Homo sapiens: one gene and its partner. The protein of the gene in region 1 purifies or fractionates together with the protein of each later gene. This does not show direct contact. Each region holds a gene or a part of one and is shown on either strand. Other genes may lie near its edges.

Evidence for each region.
Region 2: the proteins of ERO1B (region 1) and ATP4A purify together in Homo sapiens (affinity purification with mass spectrometry; 3 studies listed by BioGRID and IntAct, with this or other methods). This does not show direct contact.

What each region holds. Positions count from the first base shown.
Region 1 is NC_000001.11:236,217,008-236,233,732, reverse strand, and holds part of ERO1B (ERO1-like protein beta precursor), read left to right. Parts: intron 1-893; coding exon 894-905; intron 906-3,482; coding exon 3,483-3,509; intron 3,510-6,993; coding exon 6,994-7,086; intron 7,087-7,217; coding exon 7,218-7,464; intron 7,465-8,593; coding exon 8,594-8,663; intron 8,664-11,722; coding exon 11,723-11,809; intron 11,810-11,847; exon of another isoform or gene 11,848-12,767; coding exon 12,768-12,901; intron 12,902-15,156; coding exon 15,157-15,217; 3' UTR 15,218-16,725.
Region 2 is NC_000019.10:35,558,980-35,567,774, reverse strand, and holds the start of ATP4A (potassium-transporting ATPase alpha chain 1), read left to right. Parts: upstream 1-4,116; 5' UTR 4,117-4,145; coding exon 4,146-4,157; intron 4,158-4,247; coding exon 4,248-4,391; intron 4,392-4,506; coding exon 4,507-4,566; intron 4,567-5,136; coding exon 5,137-5,340; intron 5,341-6,842; coding exon 6,843-6,956; intron 6,957-7,159; coding exon 7,160-7,412; intron 7,413-7,701; coding exon 7,702-7,970; intron 7,971-8,583; coding exon 8,584-8,782; intron 8,783-8,795. UniProt on the Homo sapiens protein: The catalytic subunit of the gastric H(+)/K(+) ATPase pump which transports H(+) ions in exchange for K(+) ions across the apical membrane of parietal cells.

The DNA of each region.
Region 1 (16,725 bases):
TGTGTGCATAATGATTAAAGGAGCAACTTTATGTAGTAATTAATTAATTATTGAAAATAGTGGTCTTTATGACTTTTTAGTTGCTTTCTGATGTTATTGTATTTTAAAATGTGCAAATCTTTTTTTTTTTTTCTTGAGACAGAGTCGCACTCTGTCACTCAGGCTGGAGTGCAGTGGTGTGATCTCGGCTCACTGCAACCTCCGCCTCCTGGGTTCAAGCAGTTCTCTGCCTCAGCCTCCTGAGCAGCTGGGATGACAAGGTGCCGGTCACCACGCCTGGCTAATTTTTTGTATTTTTAGTAGAGATGGGGTTTCACTATCTTGGCCAGGCTGATCTTGAACTCCTGACCTGGTGATCCTCCCAAAGTGCTGGGATTACAGGCCTGAGCCACCGTGCCCAGCCTTCTTCTTTTTTTTTTTTTTGAGACGGAATTTTGCTCTTGTTGCCCAGGCTGGAGTGCAATGGCGCGATCTTGGCTCACTGAAACCTCCACCTCCTGGGTTCAAGTGATTCTCCTGCCTCAGCCTCCCAAGTAGCTGGGATTACAGGTACATGCCACCATGCCTGGCTAATTTTTGTATTTTTAGTTGAGACAGGGTTTCACATGTTGGCCAGGCTGGTCTCAAACTCCTGACCTCAGGTGATCCACCCACCTTGGCCTCCCAAAGTCCTGGGATTACCGCCGTGAGCCACCACGCCTGGCCAAAATGTGCAAATCTTATACTCTTTGACCTGTATTCTGATTAAGAGGACTCATTTGCAGGGCGTCTACTCAGTGACCAAGGTTTGTGATATAATTAATAGTTTAACAGTTTTAATCTCAAAAAATAGTATTGGGATCTGAGCTATGTAAGACATTTTCTAAAATCTTTTCTATTATTTTCTCTTTTAGGCGAAGATGATGGTGAGCAAAACTCATGTTTGTTTGTTTCAAGTGTGGAGGAAATTTTTTGTAACAATCAGAATTTGATTTTTCCTTTATGGAATTCAAAAGAAAGTATTCCTGTTTTCTAAGAAAATAGCTACTAATGAATGGTGACCAAAAAAAAAAAGATTATTTTATATATATCAAGTTATCCTATGTTAAAAAAAAAAGACCATTTTTCCTAAATGCTTAGTTTGTAAATCAATTCACATTACAAGTTCCCCATTTTCTGGTTATTATATAATTTACTTGAATATGTCCTGAGGAAGTGGGGAGAAGGAGTTAAGGTAGTTTTACCAGATAATTTGTCTTGTGACCTCTTTATTTTCTTATTGACTGAAATTTCTAACCTCAGGTATCAATATAATACTTAATTTGATGACGAGCAATTTATTAACAATTGATTATTGAATGAATGTTGGTTAAAAGATACCCCCAAAATAGCCAAAATAATTATTTCAACTGAATGTTTACCTCTCTGTGTTCAGGGGCACTGATGGGCATTGTCCAGGGTAGGAAGATGTTTAAAACATGGTGCTTTCCCTCTAGGAGCTGAGGATATATAGGATAGTAGGAAAGATAAGCACTGTACATAAACAATGGTAATGAGGTAAAGAAATACTCCATAGATGGTACAAACAGTAGGTGATATATATAGCTCCTTAGAGGAGAAACAGATCGTATCTCACAGGAGCGATGTGGGAAAGCTTACTGGAGGAGGGGTAGCATTTGAGGTGAATTTTGAATAATGGGACAGATTTAGATCCGTACAATTGGATAGTGCATGTTGGAGGAAACAGCATGCAGCTGGGAGTTGAGACAAGTCAGGCATGTTTGGGGAGACAGTAAAGAGACCCTTTTAGTGGTAGGTAAGACTATATAGTGGTAGTTTAAATTAGATTGATAGAGGCCATATTTTTTAGTACGTTGGGTACTAGACTTTTCCTGTTGGCACTTGAGGTGTTTTGAATCACAAGTGATATAATGATAAATGATCCTTACTATATGTTGAATGAATTAATTTGTTAGACGTTTTCATTTTTGTACAAAGTATGAAGACTCTCAGGAGGCAAAGTAATTCCCCACCGTCTAGTTTATCCCTAGACTCCTTACTCAGCTCATCTGAGTGTTCGGTTTTTCTATAATTTCTATCATTCTCAATTTAAAAAAAAACAACATCAAGGATAGGTAACGCAGGAAGTGCATTAACAATTTTGATTCTTATTGACTGCTCTCTTTTCTTTCTCTTTCCCCAACTCAGAAGAAGGTTACAGGGCCAGGAATGGTTCTTTTTTTTTTTTTTTTTCAAGTGTTTAACATGTTTTGAAATATGTATACATTGTGGAATGGGTATATTGAGCTAATTAGCTCACATACCATTTTTTTGGCGAAAACACTTAAAATCGCAGCAATTTTCAAGAATACAATACGTTGTAATTAACTGTAGTCAGCATGTTCTACAATAAATCTCTTGAACTTACTGCATTTCTTTAACTGAAATTTTGTATCCCTTGACCAGCATCTCCCTGACCCCAGGAATGTTCTTCAGCATTAGTACACAGATTAGTCAAGCCCTTCTGTATTCTATTAACTTTCCTGAAGAATTATATTGAAAATTAAGAGATTTTTTAGCTGTCCCTTAAAACTTATTAGTCTTAGAAAATTGAGGAAATATTTTTAGTTTTATTGGATTAGGAAAAATGGAATAATCAATAGTTGGACGTTTGTGTTAATTATAATTCCTTATTTTCTTGGAATATTTAAAAAGCACTATGGTTGTTATGAAAAGCAAATTTGAGATCGTTAAAATGTTTGCCCTATGTTTTCAGATATTTACACCTTCAATGAATAAGATTTATATACTTTTTTTTTTTAAAAGAGGCAGGATCTTGCTATGTTGCCCAGGTTGGATCCGATCTCCTGGGCTCAAGCAATCCTTCCCCCTCAACCTTCTGAGTTAACTGGGGCTACAGGTCCAAGCCACTGTGGCCAGCTCATATTTTGACTGAAATGTTTTCTTAAAAAATTTAATAGTCAAAATATTTGTAAAAACACTCTCTTAAAGTTACTTAAATTATTTGTAGGTTTTATTTCCTAGAACCATATGGTTATTTTTCTATTTTACCTGAAGCAGTAGACATTTTAGAGAGATTACTTAATCTGTCATAATTTTTTTTTTTTTTTTTTTTTTTTTTGAGACAGGGTCTCACTCTGTCACCCAGGCTGGAGGGCAGTGGTATGATCTCGGCTCACAGCAACCTTAGCCTCCTGGGTCCAAGCAATTCTCCTGCCTCATCCTCCCGAGTAGCTGGATTACAGGCCTGCACCTCCATACCCGGCTAATTTTTTGTATTTTTAGTAGAGATGGGGTTTCGCCATGTTGGCCAGGCTGGTCTTAAACTCCTGGCCTCAAGTGATCAGCCCACCTCGGCCTCCCAAAGTGCTAGGATTATAGGCATGAGCCACCATGCCCTGCAGAAAGATTTTATAAACCTAATTTATTCTACTTTATAAATGACCATATAATGTTTTAATCCACTTTTCTCTCTCTCTCAGGAGAATCATTCTACACATGGCTAGAAGGTAAACAGTCTGTTCTAAATTTATTGGATTTTTTGTTAAAAAATACTGATTTATTTAGCATATTTTTGTAAGGTCTAGGATTTTATTACCTAGTCAACTAATTTTGACAGTTTGAAAAAAAAAATGTGTTTTAGGTTAACATATGGGGATAAAATTATGTGAAAAGTTTGAAGATAGTGGTCAGCTAAAAACCAGGTTTATATAAATACACAGGCCAAATACTGTCATCAGGTTTTCATAACTGGTTCCCTAATCTTATTTCTGTTCTGTATGTAATGTTCATTCAAACTACTTCTCTAGTAACGAGTATGCAAAATATTTTAAAAGTGGAGACATTCCTTTTGGAAGGAAGTACTTTTTATATATAAAATTAATGGAAGATAAATATGAATTCAAAAGATTCGAAACATATTTGCCACGTTAATATAGTCTAACCTTGTCTGATTAAAAGATAAAGCAATATAGATCCTGATATATTAGATGCTTTTGCATTCTTGTACTTCCAGTGTTGAAAATATCAAATGCTATTAATGGAAAGGTGAAATGTTGTAGGATTTTAATAACTCAGGTTAATAACTGGATATATGATGCTTTTAAAAATTTACCTTACCAAATTGCCATTAGTATATGAAATTAAAAATTAAAATATATTAGTAACAGATAAGCAAGTAGAATGACATAGGAAAATTGATATTTCATAGCCATAACCTTATAGGAATACTACAGAGTAAAACTAATTCTATTTTATGCATGTCAATTGGTCATGTTATCTTATGAATATTATTTCTTTTTTTTTTTTTTGAGTCAGAGTCTCGCTGTTGCCCAGGCTGGAGTGCAGTGGCGCCATCTCGGCTCACTGCAACCTCTGCCTCCCAGGGTCAAGTGATCCTCCTGCCTCAGCCTCCCAAATAGCTGGGATTACAGGCACCCGCCACCACACCCAGCTAATTTTTGTATTTTTAGTAGAGATGAGGTTTCGCCGTGTTGGCCAGGCTGGTTTGAACTCCAGGCCTCAAGTGATCTGCCCACCTCAGCCTCCCAAAGTGCTGGGATAACAGGTGTGAGCCACCATACCTGGCCTATTTCTTTGTTTGTAATGAACTATGTGCATATGTTGGCCATTATTAAGGTGAACATTATTGATGTGCAAATTCTGTTAGGAGTTATATGAGAAAATCACTTATGTAGAAGATGTTTAGCTTTGTTTAATAAGCTCTACTCTAAAGATACAAATTGTGAAAAGTAGCATTTAGGCTAGAAAAGGTAGTCAGAGACTCTGAGTGTTAGTAATGAGAATGAAATTTAGAAACAATATTGGATTCTATGTATATTATATCAACCATTCTTCCAGTCTTACTGTTTTGAGTATCTGAATATTGATACATGGTTCCAAAGAGCATTCCCTTATAGGCAGCTGACTCAACCTTTTCTGAGATTCAGTTTCCTCATCTGGAGCGTGGAGAGGAGCAATAGCAGTCCTACTTACACTGTGAGTGTAGATGATTCCTGTAAAGGTTCCTTTGGAAACCACAAATCCACGTCCAAATGCCAAATATTACTGTTACAGTAAATGCAACCCCTTTCTGAAAGTTCAAGTGCTGAAAATGCATTTTAATGAAATTAAATCGAAAAGAGGAAGAAGAGAACCATTTTCTAAATTGTGTAATTGAATTGCTCTATGTTGTTAGAAGTTGGTGGATTCTGCCTTGGTAAGTCAGCTTTTGCAGATGTCACTTCAGAGTGAGATTGAGAAGGCTTTTGCCTGGACCTCGGTAATTAAAGATACCATCCAGCCTGGCACAGACTGTGTGTAGGCCAGGAGAAGCTCTCCAGCAATTTCCTGCTAAGTGTGTTGTGTGTCTGGGTGCACTTACTTGGTGCATATTTTATTATTAATTTGCTTAAAGTTACCTGTTTTTCACAGTTTGTGGAAATACATTTCTATTCCTCTCCCCTCACTTATCCCCTACCTCATTGCAGTGGTAGGGGCTTTGTGGGCTTTGCAAATTATAACTGCCTCCCAGTTTTCCAGGTCCTGGTTTGTAGGCATATGGATTTTCATGAGTTTTGCTTTGCTTACTGTCCCTTCTCTTGTCTTTATCCATTTTATTGGACATAAGCACTGCTTAGAGAGAGAGGTTGGGAAGAAAATAAAGTGAACTTCAAATCTGATATTTTGTTACTTGATAATAGATCTGATGAAAAGTTTTAGTAGAAGAGAAGTTAGTACTTAATGTTGTATTAAATATATTCATATTGTTTGTATCCATTGTTATCGTAAACATTCAAAATTGTCATATACTTTTAGGGAGGAAGCTACAAAATAAAATTCAATTTCTTTTGGTCCCCATCCATGACAATTTGAATATTCTAGCAAGAATTCCCAATTAGGGAACGAGAACTCAAAAGAATTATTTTTTCTAGTTAGAGGCCACGTGCTTCAGAATCATCTGTGATAGGACAGAAAGAGAGAGTGAATTGCTGGAAAATCTTAATAGACACAAAGAAAACCACATACTCTTACATTAAAAAAAAATTTCCCCCATCATATAAATGAGACTATTTTGCTTTCCACTATTAAAGCCCATTTTCCTGCATGGGGAAAGTGTTAAAAACCTGTTGGATGAAGGAGGGAAAAGCTCATGGCCGTGTATCCAGTGACTTCTTAAAATTTTCTGCATTTTTATTTATTTAAGAATTTACCATCTTAATCATTTTTAAGTTTACTGTTTAGTGGCATTAAATACATTCACAATGTGTATTACTCCTATTATGAGAGAAAATCTTTTAAAATGGGGGCAGGGGTTAGGATAGGATGACGGGATATCTTGACCTCTTAAGTTCTCAGCAAAAAAGCCCCTGTGGCTTAAGAAGGCTACATCAAATAACGTTCTGTTATATTCCTGTACTCCACTGATATGATTCCACTGAAGTAGTAAACAGTCAACTTGTTGTTCTTTTTTTAATTAGTTGAAATTCCTGGATTTCTGTTTTCCAAGTTTCAGCTCCTTACAAGTAGAACATATGGTTAAAAAATTAGACAATTTCAGGGCAGAAGGTTAATAAAACCCTTATTTCTCTGCTAGCAAATAACACATATAAGGAAGGGGGAAAAATCCAGCAGTGACTTTATAATTACATTTACTTCAGTAAGTTCTTAGCCTAAACCACAAGAAAACCTGTGCTGTTGCTGTCTAACATGGGAACTTGCCAACTTTATCCATAGTGTTTTGACCCCTAGTTGCTCAAACTTTTCTGCTTTTTTCAGCATTAAGTTCTCATCATATTCAGTTAACTCCATTCTGAAGCCAAAATCTTACTTTGCCTTCTAGTGAGAGAATCTTGATCTAATCAGTTTTATATTATTCCTTGATTTATTTTAATGTTCTTCAATCAAAAATAAGCCTACATACTGAACCTCCTTGAGTCAATATTTCTGATATCTAAATAGGTGTAATTTCTTTTTCAATATTTTTCTGAATAGGTTTGTGTCTGGAGAAAAGAGTCTTCTATAAGCTTATATCGGGACTTCATGCTAGCATCAATTTACATCTATGCGCAAATTATCTTTTGGAAGGTAATCATATTTTTAAGTCGAGATTTTGCCTTCTATTAGTGTAAAAATTATTGGAGAGAATACATATTCTTTAGAGCAGAAAAAAAATCCTGTTTACTAAAACAATGTAATGTATTTCTCTTTCTCTTTAGAAACCTGGGGTAAGCCCAGTTGGGGACCTAATATTAAAGAATTCAAACACCGCTTTGACCCTGTGGAAACCAAGGGAGAAGGTCCAAGAAGGCTCAAGAATCTTTACTTTTTATACTTGATTGAGCTTCGAGCTTTGTCAAAGGTGGCTCCATATTTTGAGCGCTCAATTGTCGATCTTTACACTGGAAATGCAGAAGAAGATGCTGACACAAAAACTCTTCTACTGAATATCTTTCAAGATACAAAGTAAGAATTGACTATCCGTGATTTGAAATTCTCCTCTCTGTATTCAAATGAGGTAGCACTTAAAGTACACAAAAACTGACTCCTAAAAGTTAACCGAGGGGAGATGTAGAACAGAAAAGGAAAGTGATCAATAGAACAACAGAATTTAAAAATATTTCTGAAAATGTTGATGAAAAAGCATTAATAAGGCTTTCTTTTGCAGAAATTTTCACACTTGAGAATAGTGCTTTAAAATATCACTAAATTTTATGTAGTATCAAAATTTAGTGCTACTTTAATGGTCTTTCTACCAATTTTGTATTCTTCTAGTCACTTTATTTACTTACTTATTTTTGAGACAGAGGCTTGCTCTGTTGCCCAGGCTGGAGTGCAATGGCACAATCTTGGCTCACTGCAGCCTCTGCCTCCCAGGTTCAAGCAATTCTTGTGCCTCAGCCTTCTAAGTAACTGAGATTACAGGTGTGTGCCATCACACCCAGCTAATTTTTGTATTTTTAGTAGAGATAGGGTTTCACCATGTTGGACAGGCTGGTCTCAAGCTCCTGGCCTCAAGTGATGCACCCTCCTCTGCCTCCCAAAGTGCTGGGATTAGAGGCATGGGCCATCGCGCCTGGCCTCTAGTCACTATATTTAAATTTAGATGATAATATACATGTGTTTGCATTGGGATGGATATGTAAGGAAACATTAGCCTTATCTTCTAGAATATAACCTTTTAAACAAAACGCTTGGTCAAGAAAACTTGAGTTAACTGGTTTTTAAAATAGCCTGGAAGAGAAAGATTAAAAAGTGTTTAAAGTAAATTATGTATTAAATTTTTAAAGAATATTAAGGGAATATTGCCTATTTTTTACATAGATTGTTTTCAGTTAATTTTTTAGATTACCTGTGTCATTTATTTAAAACATTACAGTCTTACTAAATTTAACAGCCATCTGTGTCTTGCTTTAGTCTTTTATGAAATAGTTTATGTGTGAACTGTTTGTCACTTTTCTACATTACCAAAACTTACATCGGAGTAAATAATGAATTTTAAATATTCATAAGGATAGAAAATTTTATCAGGTTTCTGATACAGAGTACGTGGATTTTTCATGTGTAACTTAATCCAATACTATCATTTTATCAGGTCCTTTCCCATGCACTTTGATGAGAAATCCATGTTTGCAGGTGACAAAAAAGGGGCCAAGTCACTAAAGGTAAAAAGTTCTCGATTGGGACACGGGGTTGGGAGCAGTTTGCTGGTTATGCTTTAATGCTGTGCATCCAAACTGTTTTCTTTCCCAGTTTTCCAGCTTCTTGTCAGAGTTGGTCTGATTGGATTTTAATACAAATGGTACAAAAAGCCTTTCCATATTTCTCAGTTCCATTGACCAACTGCTTAGTGAATCATTGGTCATTAGTATGTCCTATAACACCTTTATAAATGTCTTTTTAAAAGATACTAGTTGAGGGAAAGTTTTCTTAGTTTAAAAGCAGTGTATATTGTCGTTTTGATGCAGCTTTCAGAATACCATGAGCTTTTAGCCACTTTGAGGACAATAAATATTTTTCTAAAGTTTATTTTATGGAATGTTACGGTTTTTGAAACATATATTATGTTTTTGTCCCTTTGGACTAACTTAAAAGGTTAAAACTACCTGTTAACATGTGACATCAGAAGGAGAATATGTTTTGGGAACATTACCAAACTTCATGTTAGGTGTTCTTTATTTTCATTTGCTTAAAGTACATTAAGAAACAAATTGTACCCTTAAAATGTTCATAAAAGTATTTGAAATTGGCATTTTTTTTTTTTTTACTTTTAAATTTATTTTTTGAGATGGGGTCTCGCTATGTTGCCCAGGCTGGTCTCAAACTCCTGGCCCTGAGCTGTCTTCCCACCTCAGCCTCCCAAGTACCTAGGATTACAGGCACAAGCCACCATACCTGGCCACAAATAATCTTTGAGTACAACTTCATAGTCTTTTATATGTACTTCTGAAATCCGGGTAGTTTCAAAAACTGAAACATTTTCTTATGTTTAGTGCAAGGTAATTTTTTAGCAAAACCTGACCTAAACTGGTGTAAGAATATAGCAGATATTCGTAGTTTTGTGGGGTTGTTTTCAAATTCTGCTTGGTATGAATTTTTTATATTTTGCTACAGAAACATTAACGGATTTGACTGCAGGGTGTTTCCTCACACTCTGGTGAGATGTTTCATAATATACAGTACATGTACTGTATTTCTAAAATTTAAAAACTTCTGAATTCTAAAACACATTTGACCCCAAGATGTTTTAGATGTGGATGTACTATAGGAACCAATAAATCAATACTGAGTGATTCTCCTTTGGCGAGACTTTCTTGGTATTTCTGAAATAAGTAATTTAGTCACAACTATATTTTAGTGTTGGAAGGTTGTTTTATTTTACAGTTGTTTTAGAGGTATATTGCCATTTTGGTATTTTGTATGTTAATTCATTTTTATAATGCTTCCTGTTTTCTAAGTATCAACACATATGTTCTACTTTTAATCTTCAGAATGATCTTGTGTAATAGGGCAACTATAATTATGTATGTTTTTGTAGATGAGGAAAGTGAGACTAAGCAAAGCCTAAGTGTCTCACAGCAAGCTTTTAACTACACAATGCTGGGATTTTGTTTGCTGTTTGTCAAGAATGTATGAAGGAGAACCTATGTCCCTTTTCCATCTGCTGCAAAGAACTTACATTACATGAGAATATGACCAGCACAGGAGTTTTTGTGTTCTATTTATATTGTCTTTCTTTGCCAAGGTATTGATTCCTTTCAACCCTCTGGCAGCTGGTCAGGGCTTGTGGTAGCCAGAGTTTTCAGGCTACTTGCCTCCCGCTTCATGCAATAAAATATTTCCCTCAATGCAATAAAATGATTTTTATTTTCTGCAGTTGCCATGTGAAACAAATGAGGAAATTTTCTCTTAACCAATCTTATCCGCAGATAAAGTGAGACCAACCTTAAAGGCATATTGCACACAAATGCTTATAGGCAGAAGAATTTCCCCAGTGTAGGAAACTTCTCTTTTTTTTTTTTTTTTTTTTTTGAGACAGAGTTTCACTCTAGTTGCCCAGGCTGGAGTGCAGTGGTGCGATCTTGGCTCACTGCAACCTCCACCTCCCGGGTTCAAGCTATTCTTCTTCCTCAGCCTCCCAAGTAGCTGGGATTACAGGCATGCACCACCACACCTGGCAGATTTTGTATTTTTAGTAGACATGAGGTTTCACTATGTTGTTTAGGCTGGTCTCAAACTTATGACCTCAAGTGATCACACCTTGGTCTCCCAAAGTGCTGGGATTACAGGCGTGAGCCACCCTGCCTGACCAGTGTGGGAAACTATTACAGCAAAATAGAGGGATCCAGTAAGCATCTCCATAACAACTGCATTAGCAAATGTAGAGGACTGTGGGACCATATGTGTCACACAGGCCTGTTATCATTCATATTGATTGAGCAACCATGACAAACATAGTGTGGTACTAAGGAGTGATACAAAAATTGATCATTGTTCTAGGACTAGCTTTCTGATATAGGCTTACACAAAGCAAAGGATCAAAAATAAGTGAAACATAAACTAGACATATTTATTGTTGGTTGTATGTAGATAACAAATGGAAGCAGCAATTAAGTTCCTTAAAAGTAAAGACCATGTATTATTTACTTTTGTATCTCCCATAGTGCATATTTTGGTGCTTTGCATAAAGTAGCTCCTCAGTGGAAAGTGAATTAATATGCAGAATGAATTTTATTAATTTCCATTAATGTCAGTATTTTATGTACCATGTTATAGTATACAAGTATCAAGTATTTTTCTTTACTGTTGAAAAACACAACTCGGGTTGGGTATGGTGGCTTACACCGTAATCCCAGCACTTTGGGAGGTCGAGGTGGGCAGATCATTTGAGGCCAGGAGTTCAAGACCAGCCTGGACAACATGGCGAAACCCCGTCTCTACTAAAAATACAAAAATTAGCTGGGCATGGCGGCATGCGCCTATAATCTAAGCTACTTGGGAGGCTGAGGAGACAGGAGAATCCCTTGAACCTGGGAGGTGGAGGTTGCACTAAGCCGAGATGGCACCACTGCACTCCAGCCTGGGCGACAAAGCAAAACTCCTTCTCAAACAAACAAAAAACACAACTGATTTATTAATAAGCATCAAAACTTACTTATCGTTTAGCCAAATGCGGTTCAATTTTAAAAGTCTAATTAGACTGAAAATATTTTCTGCTTGCTAGGAGGAATTCCGATTACATTTCAAGAATATCTCCCGTATAATGGACTGTGTTGGATGTGACAAATGCAGATTATGGGGAAAATTACAGGTATATGTGTTGTCTTCTCTTTTGAAGCCATTACTAACCTTTATTTTTTCCACTGAGTCCAAGCTTTTTATTAAAATGTCCTCATTGTTCATTGAATTAGAATTTAGGAATAGGCAGATCCAAGGTGTTTTTTCTGTTGATGAAAAAATTAAAGTATATGTGTTACATGTATGTGAAAGGATGTTTCTCATATTATTCTTTAGTGATTTTAGTTTTATTGTGTCTATGTTTCTATTGATACAATACCAGATTCATTTGTGAAGTTGGTGGTCATTACGAACCGAGTATATCCGTATTTTACATATGTATATAGAAAGGTAAAATGTAATTACATAAAAAGATTGAAATATGAAGTCTTGGTCATTGAATTTGTATAAATGAGCAAAAGAAGGTCACTTAGTCAAAACAGGAAAGCTCCGCAAGACAGGTCCATTACTCTGTGTAAGCCAGTGTCAAAAGGATTGTTGAATATTTTATCTCTTTCTAACAAAGATGGTAACTTATAGAAAATTAAGAGACAAAATTATTACAGTGGAGGCTATACTGAAATAAAATGTCTTTTTCTATAGTGCTAATAATTGAGAAATTATTAAGTGTGGGTATCAATAATCTCTGAGTTTTGAATTGCTAAAAGCTGTAAAAAGTCCTTTATGGTTACAAATTGAACATTGTAATCCTAATATGGTATTTTCAAGGTTAAAAAAGTCATTTTAATAATTTGGAATAGTATGATATGTATTCAATAAGTGTTAAGACTATTCAGGTTTCCTTAACTGCTCAGATGTGTTTATTATATGCATAACCTGTGAGAAAGTAGAAACTGTAGTAATATTTTTGTGAAAAGCTCAGTTCATATGAATTTCCTAACTGGCATAACAGTGGCTATATATTCCTTTAAGCCTTTTTACTAGTTATTATTATTTAAAGTTAATTATGAGTTTATTGCTATTTTCTTTAGACTCAGGGTTTAGGAACTGCCCTGAAGATATTATTCTCTGAAAAAGAAATCCAAAAGCTTCCAGAGAATAGTCCATCTAAAGGCTTCCAACTCACCCGACAGGAAATAGTTGCTCTTTTAAATGCTTTTGGAAGGTAAGAACCATTATATGTTGAAGATTTTTGATTTCCCATTGGGTTTCAACAAACTGCAAAGATAATCTTCTTTGCTAAAAGTAGGGTTTGTTTTGTTGACAAAAAAAAATTTTATATTGTATCTGTACTAACTTAGAGAGGCCTTAATGCTGACAAGTCAGTTTCTCTACAGGTCATAGGAAAAACTAAGTTTCCAATTGCCAGTGTTTTTCAGTTTGCTGCCTTAATTTTGTAAGGGAGATATTCTTCTAATATTCTTTTTGCTTGGCTATAACTTGTTCAACTACAATAGCAGGAGTAAGGAATGTGTGATTGAGAAGGTGATAAAAGAAAATTAAAACCTTCATCTGCTCCTTATTTTTCTTAAATTTTCATTACTATTTTTTTCTTTTCTCACCTTTTTCCTGCACTATGCTCTTTATTTCTGAAGCTCAGAGGTCATTTTTCTTTCACTCATTTCTACATGATTTACTTCTGTATAGAGACATATAATTTGCTTGCTTGTTTATATCACCAGTGGTTTAAAAAATAATTTGAATTTGCCAGCAGAGATACATGTAATGCCAACTGAGGAATACAGAACAGAAGGAAAAGAATCACAGAAAATAATACTATGCTTCCTTGGGGAAAAAGAGAAAAAAGTCAACTTGAGGAAGAATTAAAAAAAAAAAAATAGGGGACTAAGTAATACAAAGATTATTTCTTGGTTTTCTTAACATGTGTTTTAAGTTAAAAAGAAGCAGTTAAATTAAAAACAGATTTATTATATGTCCCCTGCTTTTTTTTTTTTTTTTTTTTTTTTTAAAAGAGATGAGGGTCTCGCTCTGTCATCCAGGCTGGAATGCAGTGGCACAATCATGGCTCACTGCAGCATCCAAATCCTGGGGTCAGGCGTTCCTTCCACTTGAGCTTCCCAAGTAGCTGGGACTACGGACACATGCTATTTTGCCTGGCTAATTAAAAAATTTTTTTTGTAGAGATGGGGGTCTCACTTTGTTGTCCAGTCTGGTCTCAAACACCTGGCTTCAAGTGATTCTCCTGTCTTGGCCTCCCAAAGTGCTGGGATTACAGGCATGAGCCACTGTACCTGGCCATTTCCCATCTTAATAACAAGGATTTCAGCTGTTGCTTCCCTGTATTTAAAGATGACTATGTAGGTTGAGATTTCAGACACAGGATAGATATAGACTATCCATTAACTGGTATTTCATAAAAAATTCAGTCCATCCACTTATGAGGCCTGTAGAAAGATAACACAGGAGATACTGAATGAAATTTAAATAAATTGAAATGAAAAATATTGTAAATAACTTAAGCATCTCTTAAGTCCAAATTAAATTGAGAAAGATGAAAACAATTGAGAATTTCAAAACAATTGAAAATTTCCTTCGATCTCATAAAAAATATTCACAAATGCAGCCTTTCTTGTTTTAGTTCTATATCTAGAGCTTATTACCTTTTATTGTTCCCTAGAGTAATGGACTCAGAATCAGGGGTCCTAAAGTTCTGGAATCCTGGCCTGCCCTTTAGTAGTGGTATGAACTCAGGCAAATCACTGCTTTCCTAGTTTGTTTCCTGATAATGAGATCATATATGTGATGGGCTTAGAACATTGCCTGTCCTCCTAAGTGATTAAGGAATAATTTTTCTTCTATCAAATAGTTAAAGATTTTTCTTCTATCACCCCTGAATTGTACATAGGGATACTTGAGCTTTTAGAATTACTTTTTTATATTTCCCATCCCAGAGTTTTACTTTTTGGCCTGGGCTGAGAAGCACTTCATTTAGTCAGTCAGTAATCATTTACTGAATACTATAAGCATCAATGGGTATGGGGCACAGGAGAGAGACTCAGCAGGAGATGAAATAGAGTCTTTACCCTTAGGGAGCTAACAACATAAGACAAATTAGTGTGTTTGGGGAACATTGAGTAAAGAGCAATCATTTGAAGAGGAATGTGCAAAATAAATTTATTAGACCAATTGTAAATGATTTGAGATTCTTTATTAAGAATTATTCATATCACTGTTCCCATTATTAATCTAATGTCTGTAGATAGTATGAAGTAACAGGCTTCCTTTGCCCCTTCTAAACCAGTCTTAATGAGAACACTAATTTAAACATGGAAGCTTCAGTGTTTGAGGTTTTTTATTTTAGGTTTTGCTTTCAAATTATAGCTTATGTAACAATATCAATAATTTGAAACAGTATGCAACATGTTAGCCTTACTAATAAGCTTTTTCTTTCTTCCATAGGCTTTCTACAAGTATAAGAGACTTACAGAATTTTAAAGTCTTATTACAACACAGTAGGTAATAAAGGCTTTTATGTGTCTAACTAGAGACATAAAGTGACTGTGGAAAGCCTTTTAATTATGGACATTCATCAGAAAGACACTAATCTGACTTCAAGAATTCTGAACTATTAAATAGAAAATTTAAATGCTCACTTGAATATTTATGATTCTTAATAGATTATTATCAACTAGAGATATTTATAAATGAAGTATATACTTTTAAAACATGTAAGTTATACTAATTTTGTGTTTAATTTCATATGTTTTCATGTAATGAAAATTCTATTTTTTTTAGAATTGGTTTTGTTTTTATTCTATTATCCTTTATTTCCAGTTGTCAAACTTTAAATGGCTATGTCTGCATTCTAATAACACTGTTCAGTCTGTTATGGAAAAGGAGAACTAGGGAACAAATGTTGCTCAGGGCTGGTGTCAGTGAGAAAAATTTATCAATGCTTTTTAATGTGTTTTTACCCTTGCCTCACTGTGTGTGTGTCACTTTCTATAATATAAAGAAATACTATAATATTTCTAGAATCTGGAACTGTCACCATGATGAATGGCCCTTTCAATGCATAGTTACAGAAATTCCTGAAGATTCCCCAGGACTTCAATTTCATTGGTTTTTATTTGCAGTTTTTAGTTGCTGTAATTGTTGCTGTTTCCAGTCTAAAGGACCTCCTTTGGTAAAGGTGAACAAGACCTCTCCCCTATGCTACCCAGCCAGATTTTGTGTGTGTAATGGGCTGGCCCAAGAGTGTTCTTTTACTTAGAACTCCTTTTGATTTTGCTTTTCTCTGCCCCTAGAAATTTTAGGGACAAAGACATTTTGGAAATTGTCAGTTACTTTTAGAAAGAAAACACTGCAGAAATATTTAACAGATTACTTCTTGATAAAATTTAAATGGGATTATATGAATTTATAATGCCAATTGAAAATATTATATACACAAAATTTGCTATTTTCACTTAAAGTAAGCATTTTTAAAGGATTTATTTTAGAATACAATCTATGCAATCCTCGAACTCAGTGTGCTTTTCCCTGACAGGATATATAAAAAGGTAGATTAGGTCAACCCTCCTTTAAGCTTACTCTCCCCTCACCTTTTCTTTTCACTGTATATAAACGGTACTTTCTGTGATTCATACCAACAGAGGACTTTCTGTGATTCATACCAACAGTCCTAAACTGTCATTTTCTAAATCTGGGATTTAAAATCTTTAGACAATATTTAAAATCTTGATTTTTTTTAAATGTCAGCAGATACAATTTGGAAGATTGCATCTGTGTAGAAGTAATGCAGGTACAAGATCTAGAGTTTTTCCTTAGACTCTTTAGTCTTTTCTGAATTAAAGAATAAGTGCTCTTAAATCCATATTTTATCCTGTCAAAGTCTGAAATGTGTTCATTGATGATTTGGTGACATCTAAAAAATTGTATTTAGTTGGCTTGGCTCACCCCTCTTAAAAATACTTAGCCATCTCTTGGTGGGATGTGGTGGGGGTATTAAGGTCTCAGAGTTATTTA
Region 2 (8,795 bases), on another chromosome or scaffold:
TACCCATGAACCTAGCTGAGCAGGGGATGGTCAGAATGGACAAGGGTGGCTGGGCGTGGTGGCTCACACCTGTTATCCCAGCATTTTGGGAGGCTGAAGTGGGCAGATTACTTGAGGTAAGAAGTTGGAGACCAGCCTGGCCAACATGGCAAAACCCCATCTCTACTAAAAATACAAAAATTAGCTGGGCATGGTGGTACGTGCCTGTAGTCCCAGCTACTTGGGAGGCTGAGGCAGGAGAATCGCTTGAACCTAGGAGGTGGAGGTTGCAGTAAGCCAAGATCGTGCCACTGCACTTCAGCCTAGGTGACAGAGCCAGACTCCGTCTCAAAAAAAAAAAAAAAAAAAAAGGACAAGGCCTTGGGACTGGCACAGGCATCCACTTTAAGGGGTTGGGTGTGGGAGGTCTGGAGTCTTAGGGGAAGTGCTGGGGGCTCAGGCAGTGGCTGTATTTCTTTCAATTACTTTAACTACCAGGGCAGCTGGGTGCCAGCCCTGGCTGTGGCACTGTCTTGAGTAAAAATTAAAGAGGGCATAGAATGGTTTCCTGATCACTCCCTAAGGCTCTTGAGACCCCTCCCCACCATGTCCACCCTGCTCTAGACAAGTTACAGACTCCAAAATGGGGCATGGCCTGACACGATGATGCTCTGGGGCAGGGGATGGGGGGGACACACATCCCTTCTGTGTTCCTGCCAGCACACAACCCGAACTTAATCACGAAGAACCAGCAGCAAAGCCACACTGAGCGAAGTCTACAAAATCACTGAATCATACTCTTCCAAAACGCCCAGGTCATGAAAGACAAGGAAAGATGGAGGAATTGTTACGCAATGGAGGAAGCCAAAATGTGAGGTGTGGTCCCGGACTGGATCCTGGACTAGGAAAAGGACATTAGTGGGAAAACTGGGGAAATTCAAATAAATCCTCCAAATCATGGGTGTCCAATCTTTTGGCTTCCCTGGGCCACATTGGAAGAAGAATTGTCCTGGGTCACACATAAAATACATTAACACTATCAATAGCTGATGAGCTAAAAAAAAAAAAAATCGCAAACAAATCTCATAATGTTTTAAGAAAGTCTACGAATTTGTATTGGGCAGCATTCAAAGCAGTCCTGGGCCACATATGGCCTGCAGGCCATGGGTTGGACAAGCTTGCTCTAGATTATTTACTAGTGTTTTATTAATGTTAATTTCCTGAATTTGATTATTAGACTGTGCTTATGTAAGAAAATGTCCTTATTCATAGAAGACACATGCCTAAGTATGGATAAAGGGGATCCTGTCTCCAACTTGCTTCCAAATGATTCAGCCAAAAATTTAAAAAATTCTGGCCAGGCATGGTGGCTCACACCTGTAATCCCAGCACTTTGGGAGGCCAAGGCGGGTGGATCACTTGAGACCAGGAGTTCTAGACCATCCTGGCCAACATGGTGAAACCCCGTCTCTACTAAAAATACAGAAATTAGCTGGGCATGGTGGCGGGTGCCTGTAATCCCAGCTGCTTGGGAGGCTGAGGCACAAGAATTGCTTGAATCCAGGAGACAGAGGTTGCAGTGAGCCGAGATCATGACACTGCACTACAGCCTGGGCGACAGAGAAAGACTCTGTCTCAAAAAGAAAAAAAAAAAAAATCTATCAATCATCTATCATTTATGTATCCATCTATCTGTCTAACATCTCTTATCTATCTATTTTTCTATTTTTTTTTTTTTTTTTTTTTGAGACAGAGTCTCACTCTGTCACCCAGGCTGGAGTGCAGTGGCATGATCTCGGCTCACTGCAACTTTCACCTCCCAGGTTCAAGTGATTCTCCTGCCTCGGCCTCCCTGGTAGCTGGGATTACAGGCACACACCACCACATCCAGCTAATTTTTGTATTTTTAGTAGAGACAGGGTTTCACCATGTTGACCAGGCTGGTCTCGAACTCCTGACCTCATGATCCGTCCACCTCAGCCTTCCAGAGTGCTGGGATTACAGATGTGAGTCACAGTGTCCGGCCCAGTCCTCCTTCTAATGAACACCAAACAAATAAAAAGAAAACACAGTGTCAGGTTGGAGTAGGAGGTGTAAATACAGTGGGGTAAAGGAACAGAACACAGTGTGCAGTATTACAGAATGGACTCTCTGAAGAGGTGACATTTGAGCTGAGACCTGAAAGAGGTGAGAAAGCCAGTGCAGACATCTAAGGAAGGGGGCCCAGGCAGAAGGAACTGTAAGTACCAAGGTCCTGAAGCAGGAACGACCTTGGTCTGTGCAAAGTGCAGCAGAGAGGTCAGTGCCCCTGGAAACCTAGCAGCAACAGAGGCAGGACAGGTGACCAGGGCCAGATGTTGCAGGAAGGAGTGCAGAGTTTATTCTGAGTGGGAAGGGAAGGCTTTGGAGGGTTGTAAGCAGGGGGTGACACAAGCTGTTTGACATACATGGCTCAGAGCTGATGGGAGCCCAGTGAGCGAGTAGATTCACTACAAGGACAGCATGTGGCCCCACGCCACCTCTTCTTTGGAGGTTTCTTCTAGCAGGCTGGGGATGACCAGCCGTGTGGGTGCGGGGAGGAGCTCTGGCTGCCCAACAGCTTTGAGTTTCCCAGGTGACCTGCCCCAGTAGAGAAGGACATTGCCAGGGCAGTTATCTTATCAGGCGCACGCTCACCTGCTCCTGGAGACACGCTCACCCCATAACATACCAAGGTCCCCACCATTCCACTGGCCCAGCCCCTCGCTGCTGCTGCCCATGGAGGTCCCTACCTGAGGGATGAGGAGGGAGTCCCCAGGCCTCCTGGCATCTGTCACCCAACACCAAGATCAAGCCAAGACCCTTGGACACATCCTTTCCCCATGTTGCACCTTGGTTTCCCCATCTAGGGTAGGGACGGGGAATGGTTGAGAGCTGTAAAGTCTGTAGCTGGATATGTGAGTCCCTGTGAGCCTCAGTTTCCCCCTCTGCACAACAGGAATGATAGTTCTGCCTGCACAGGGTTTTTTGCAAAGACCCGTGAGGTCACACGTGCAGAGCCTGGCATGTGTGTGGTGCTGCTGCAGTGAAGTTTGGGTTTTTCCATTGGTGGTGCCATAGAAGAGCTAGGCTCTGGGGTCAAGCCCTGGGGTCAAGCCCGGGCTGGAACCCTGTCCCTAATTCTTAGACGTTGAAATCTTCTGCAAAGTCCCTGATGGGGGCTAAGAAGAGAATATTGCTTTACAGGGCTGCTGTTAGATGCTAAGGAAACCATTTGAGTGACACACAGAGCACACCCAGCCCATAGTGAATAGTCAGAGTTCAGTAAACATTCAGCCACCATAGAGAGTGTTGTAAGCATGGCAGGGCATGGTGGCTCACGCCTGTAATCCCAGCACTTTGGGAGGCCAAGGCGGGTGGATCACCTGAGGTCAGGAGTTCGAGACCAGCCTGGCCAACCTGGTGAAACCCCGTCTCTACTAAAAGTACAAAAATTAGCTGGGTGTGGTGGCATGTGCCTGTAGTCCCAGCTACTCAAGAGGCTGAGGCAGGAGAATCACTTGAACCCGGGAGGCGGAGGTTGCAGCGAGCTGAGATTGCACCACTGCACTCCAACCTGGGTGTCAGAGTGACACTCCATCTCAAAAAAAAAAAGAAAAAAAAAAAGAGTGTGGGAGCACCCTCCTCTTCCAGTTGATCAGGCACGTGCTATTTAGACTGAAAGAGGACACTCTGCAGCCAGCTGATCTGGTTCTCACTCCATTATGTCCTAGCCTGTGATGGAGCCATAGGAGAATGACTCAACCCCTCCATGCCTCAGTTTCCCCATCTGTAAAGGGTCTTGTCCCCTCAAAGGGTTATTGGAAGGTTAAATAAGTTAGCACATGGAAGCCGTCAGCACAATGCCCAGCGCATAATGAGCACCTTATGTTTGCTCTTCTTGTTGCTGCAGCGGTTCCCAGGGGCTCCCTGATCTCAGGGCAGGTTGACATGGGGGGATCTGGGCAGGGGAGGGGGGGGCCAGCCCAGGAGGGAATGCCTGAGGTGCCCAGGCCTAGAGGTCACCCCAAGGAGCCTGTAATCAGCTGTGGTCGGGCGGTTCTGCTCCACCCCACCGCCCTCCCTGGGTATATCAGGACTGGTCCGGGCCCAGGCTCTGTTGGGTGGGAGCACAGGCACCGGGCACCATGGGGAAGGCCGTGAGTGGGGCCCAGGGGTCCGGGGTGCAGTGGGGACAGGGGTTGCAGTGGAATCTGAGTTCTCCCTCCCTCCATCCTGTCCATTCCCAGGAGAACTATGAGCTCTACTCGGTGGAGCTGGGTCCTGGCCCTGGCGGGGACATGGCTGCCAAGATGAGCAAGAAGAAGAAGGCGGGTGGCGGGGGTGGCAAGAGGAAGGAGAAGCTGGAGAACATGAAGAAGGAGATGGAGATTGTGAGCTCTGACTGGGGAGGGGCGGGAGCTGGAGGGTAGGCTGGGAACCAGGCAGTGGGCGGGGAGGGGGCCAGGAGAGCCCAGAGCAAGCACCCTGCCCCACCCCACCACACAGAACGACCACCAGCTGTCAGTGGCGGAGCTGGAACAGAAATACCAGACCAGTGCCACCAAGGTGAGCTGGAGACTGGGAGCGTACAGAAAGGGGAGGAGGAGAGAGGGAGGGAGAGGGAGATGGAAGGAGGGAGATGGAGAGAGGGAGAGAGAGGGAGAGATGAAGAGAGGAAGATATGGAGAAATAGAGAGAGGGAGGGAGGCAGAAAAGGAAAGAGGGAGGGAGGGAGAGAGGAAAGGATGGAGGGAGGGGAGGAGAGAGGGAGGGAGATGGAGAGAGGGAGAGAGAGGGAGAGGGAGAGAAGGGAGAAAGCATTAGAGAGAAAGGGTGACACACAGAGACGGAGAGAGGAGTAGCTGAAAAGAGACAGCAAGACAGAGAAGGCAGAGACAAATAAGGAGAGAGCAGCAGGAGAGAGACACATAGAAAGGGGAGCGAGGAGAGAGAGACAAAGGGAGAGATGAAGGAGGGAGGGAGAGATGGGGTGGGGGCAGGAACCAAGAGACAAAGAGATGAGAAGGAGCAGGACAGACCAAGCTGGAGAAGGGAAACTGAAGCAGGGGGCTTTCCACGGGGTGTGCATGTGGAGGAAAGCCCCCAGGACCGCCTCGCCCTGCCCCTCTGTCCCAGGGCCTCTCTGCGAGCCTGGCTGCTGAGCTGCTGCTGCGGGATGGGCCCAACGCACTGCGGCCACCACGGGGCACCCCAGAGTACGTCAAGTTCGCGAGGCAGCTGGCCGGGGGCCTGCAGTGCCTCATGTGGGTTGCCGCCGCCATCTGCCTCATCGCCTTTGCCATCCAGGCTAGTGAGGGGGACCTCACCACCGACGACAATGTGAGCCATGTTGTGGGGACAGGCTCAGGACATGGGGACCTGGGGATGGAAGACACTGAGCCTGGGACTTGGGACAAGAGGGGCAGAGAAGGATGGGGATAGACGAACACGAAAGGCAGTCTCAAGACAGGGGTCATGGAGGGTGAAGGACATTGGGATATGGATGGGGCAGACCCAAGGACACAGGACACAGGGACACTGGGGTGAATCTTGGGTATGGGGACATAGGTGGGGGCATAAAGAGTATGGCAATGTGATACGTAAGAGATGGGATTTGGAGGCCGGGCGTGTAATCCCATGCCTGTAATCCCAGCACTTTGGGAGGCCGAGGCGGGCAGATCACCTGAGGTCAGGAGTTCGAGACCAGCCTGGCCAACATGGCAAAACCCCATCTCTACTAAAATTACAAAAATTAGCCAGACATGGTGGCGGGCACCTGTAATCCCAGTTACTTGGGAGGCTGAGGCAGGAGAATCATTTGAACCCAGGAGGTGGATGTTGCAGTGAGCCAAGACCATGCCACTGCACTCCAGCCTGGGCGACAGAGCGAGACTGCATCTTAAAAAAAAAAAAAAAAAAAAAAAAAAGAGATGGGACTTGGAAGCAGAGGACATGCAGTGCAGACACAGGACAGACTGAGGCACGGGGAATAGGAGACCCTGGGACTCAGACATAGGACACCAGGGCAGGGACCCAAGCCTCAGGACACAGCACATAGAGAGACACAAAACATGAGACATAGAAGCACAGAGACAGAGAGGAAATGGAGGTGCAGGGCAAGGGACATTGGACATATGGCAGAGATGAGGGCAAGGGACATGGGGACTCAGGGACATGTGACATGGGACAGAGGCTCGAAAAGTCATGGCCATGGGACACAGGATGGGAACTCGGAGATACACAGACATGGGAGACACGGGACACAGTGACTGGGGAGCTAGAACATGGGGGCCGTGGCCACAGAGGACACAGACCATGACGTACAAGGTCTGCAGCACACGCAGGGACGGGGATGTGAGGATGCAGGGACAAGGGGGCCCAGGGGACACACAGAGGGTGGCAGCAGATTATGGAAAACCCAGGATGTGAAACTGGAGACACGGGGAATACAGGCCATGGGGACAGGAGGAGACATGGGACAGTGGACATGGGGAATGCAAGGCTTGGGGACACAGGAGAAGGGAACACGTCAGACCAAGGCACACAGTGATTTGGGGCACAAGTCACAGATATGGGGACATGGAAGATTGAGGATTCAGGGCCAGAGGATATGAAATATACACAGAAACACAAGACACTGAGAAGACAGAGCAGGCGAGTGTGGGACATGAGGGACATGGGAGGGGGCTAAAGGCTACAGGGAATGGTGCATGGAGCTTCCTAGTAGGTGGGGAAAAGCATGGGGAAAACCAAGAAAACCAGGGCACCAGGGAGCAGGTCGGTGGCCTCAGGCAGGCAGCTTCCGGCCCCTCTGAATAACCCCACCCCTTCCCTGTCCCCAGCTGTACCTGGCAATCGCTCTCATTGCTGTGGTTGTCGTCACCGGCTGCTTTGGCTACTACCAGGAATTCAAGAGCACCAACATCATCGCCAGCTTTAAGAACCTTGTGCCACAGGTGGGTTCCCCAGCACCCAGCCACTCCAGATCCCAGAGACTCCAAACTGCTCCTGTAGCCTCCTTCCATCAGGCCCCTGTCCCTCATCTGTGGCCTCCATCTCTCCCCATGGGTCCCAGCTCTCCTCATCCTTTACCTCCCCACATGCAGCAGCTCCCACCCCCACCCCCGTCCACCTCAACTTTGGTGCCCCTGCCCCGCAGCAAGCCACTGTCATCCGCGATGGAGACAAATTCCAGATCAACGCTGACCAACTGGTGGTGGGCGACCTGGTGGAGATGAAAGGTGGGGACAGAGTGCCCGCCGACATCCGCATCCTGGCGGCCCAGGGCTGCAAGGTGGACAACTCCTCGCTGACAGGGGAGTCTGAGCCACAGACCCGCTCACCCGAGTGCACGCACGAGAGCCCTCTGGAGACCCGCAACATCGCCTTCTTCTCCACCATGTGCCTTGAGGGTCTGTGAAGCCCCCGCCTGCCTGCCCAGTAACTGCTGCCTCCACTGGCCTCTCTCCTGCTATCTTCTAGGACAGGGGGCTTCAGCCTCCCTGTCTCTCTCCTGCATGACTGCCACCTCCCCGTGACTGCCACCTCCCCAGGGCACACTGCTTCTCTGTCTCCCACTGTCACTACCCTCTCCCAGGTCACATCCTCCACTGGCAGTGACTGGCTGTCCTTCAGCTCACACGGCAGTGCACACCCCACTGCCGCCCCCTATCCCTGAGTCGCGCCTTGGCCCCCCTGCAGGCACCGTGCAGGGCCTGGTGGTGAACACGGGCGACCGCACCATCATTGGGCGCATCGCATCGCTGGCGTCGGGGGTGGAAAACGAGAAGACACCCATCGCTATCGAGATCGAGCATTTTGTGGACATCATCGCGGGCCTGGCCATTCTCTTCGGTGCCACATTTTTTATTGTGGCCATGTGCATTGGCTACACCTTCCTGCGGGCCATGGTCTTCTTCATGGCCATCGTGGTGGCCTATGTGCCTGAGGGGCTGCTGGCCACTGTCACAGTGAGTGGGGGCAGGCGGGGATGCAGGGAGCTGAGGGGCCTGCTCAACCATCTGTTCTTTCCTCCACATTTCCCCCATCACCTCCCTGCCTGTCTATCTGTCCACTTAGCTCCCATCCATTCTCCTGCCTTCCCATCATCCACTCATTCAGCAAGTCCTTCCCGAGGCAACCCTGGGGCAAGTCCTGTGCCACACATTGAGGGCGCAGAGATGACGAGGCCGGGTCCTTAACTGGAAGAGGCTGATGTCCTGTGCAGGCAGCCAGCATGTCACCAGACCTTCCACAGTCAGCACCCAGCTCCAGACCAGTCCCCAGGGAGGTGCGGGGAAGGTTCCTCTTCTCATTTTGATTGTGTGAAGAGAATTTTCAGAACCTCGGCTGGGACAGCTCAGAGAGGGGCCTCGCTACTGTATCTGGGCAGACTGGGGAAGGAGTCCCAAACAAAGCACTGGCTGAACAAAAGCTGGGGCCAAGAAAACACCTGGTGTTTGCAGAAGCACGTTGCACACGCAGCCCCGCGGCTGGGGTAAAGCCTTCCCCGTTCTTTGACGCGGGGAAGAGGACTGGAAGCCAGGGTGGGTCCCCAGCCTGCGGTGCTCACCCCTTCCCCAGGTCTGCCTGTCCCTGACAGCCAAGCGCCTGGCCAGTAAGAACTGCGTGGTCAAGAACCTGGAGGCGGTGGAGACATTGGGCTCCACTTCGGTGATCTGCTCGGACAAGACAGGGACTCTCACTCAGAACCGCATGACTGTGTCCCATCTGTGGTTTGACAACCACATCCACACAGCTGACACCACGGAAGACCAGTCAGGTGTGGGGGAGGG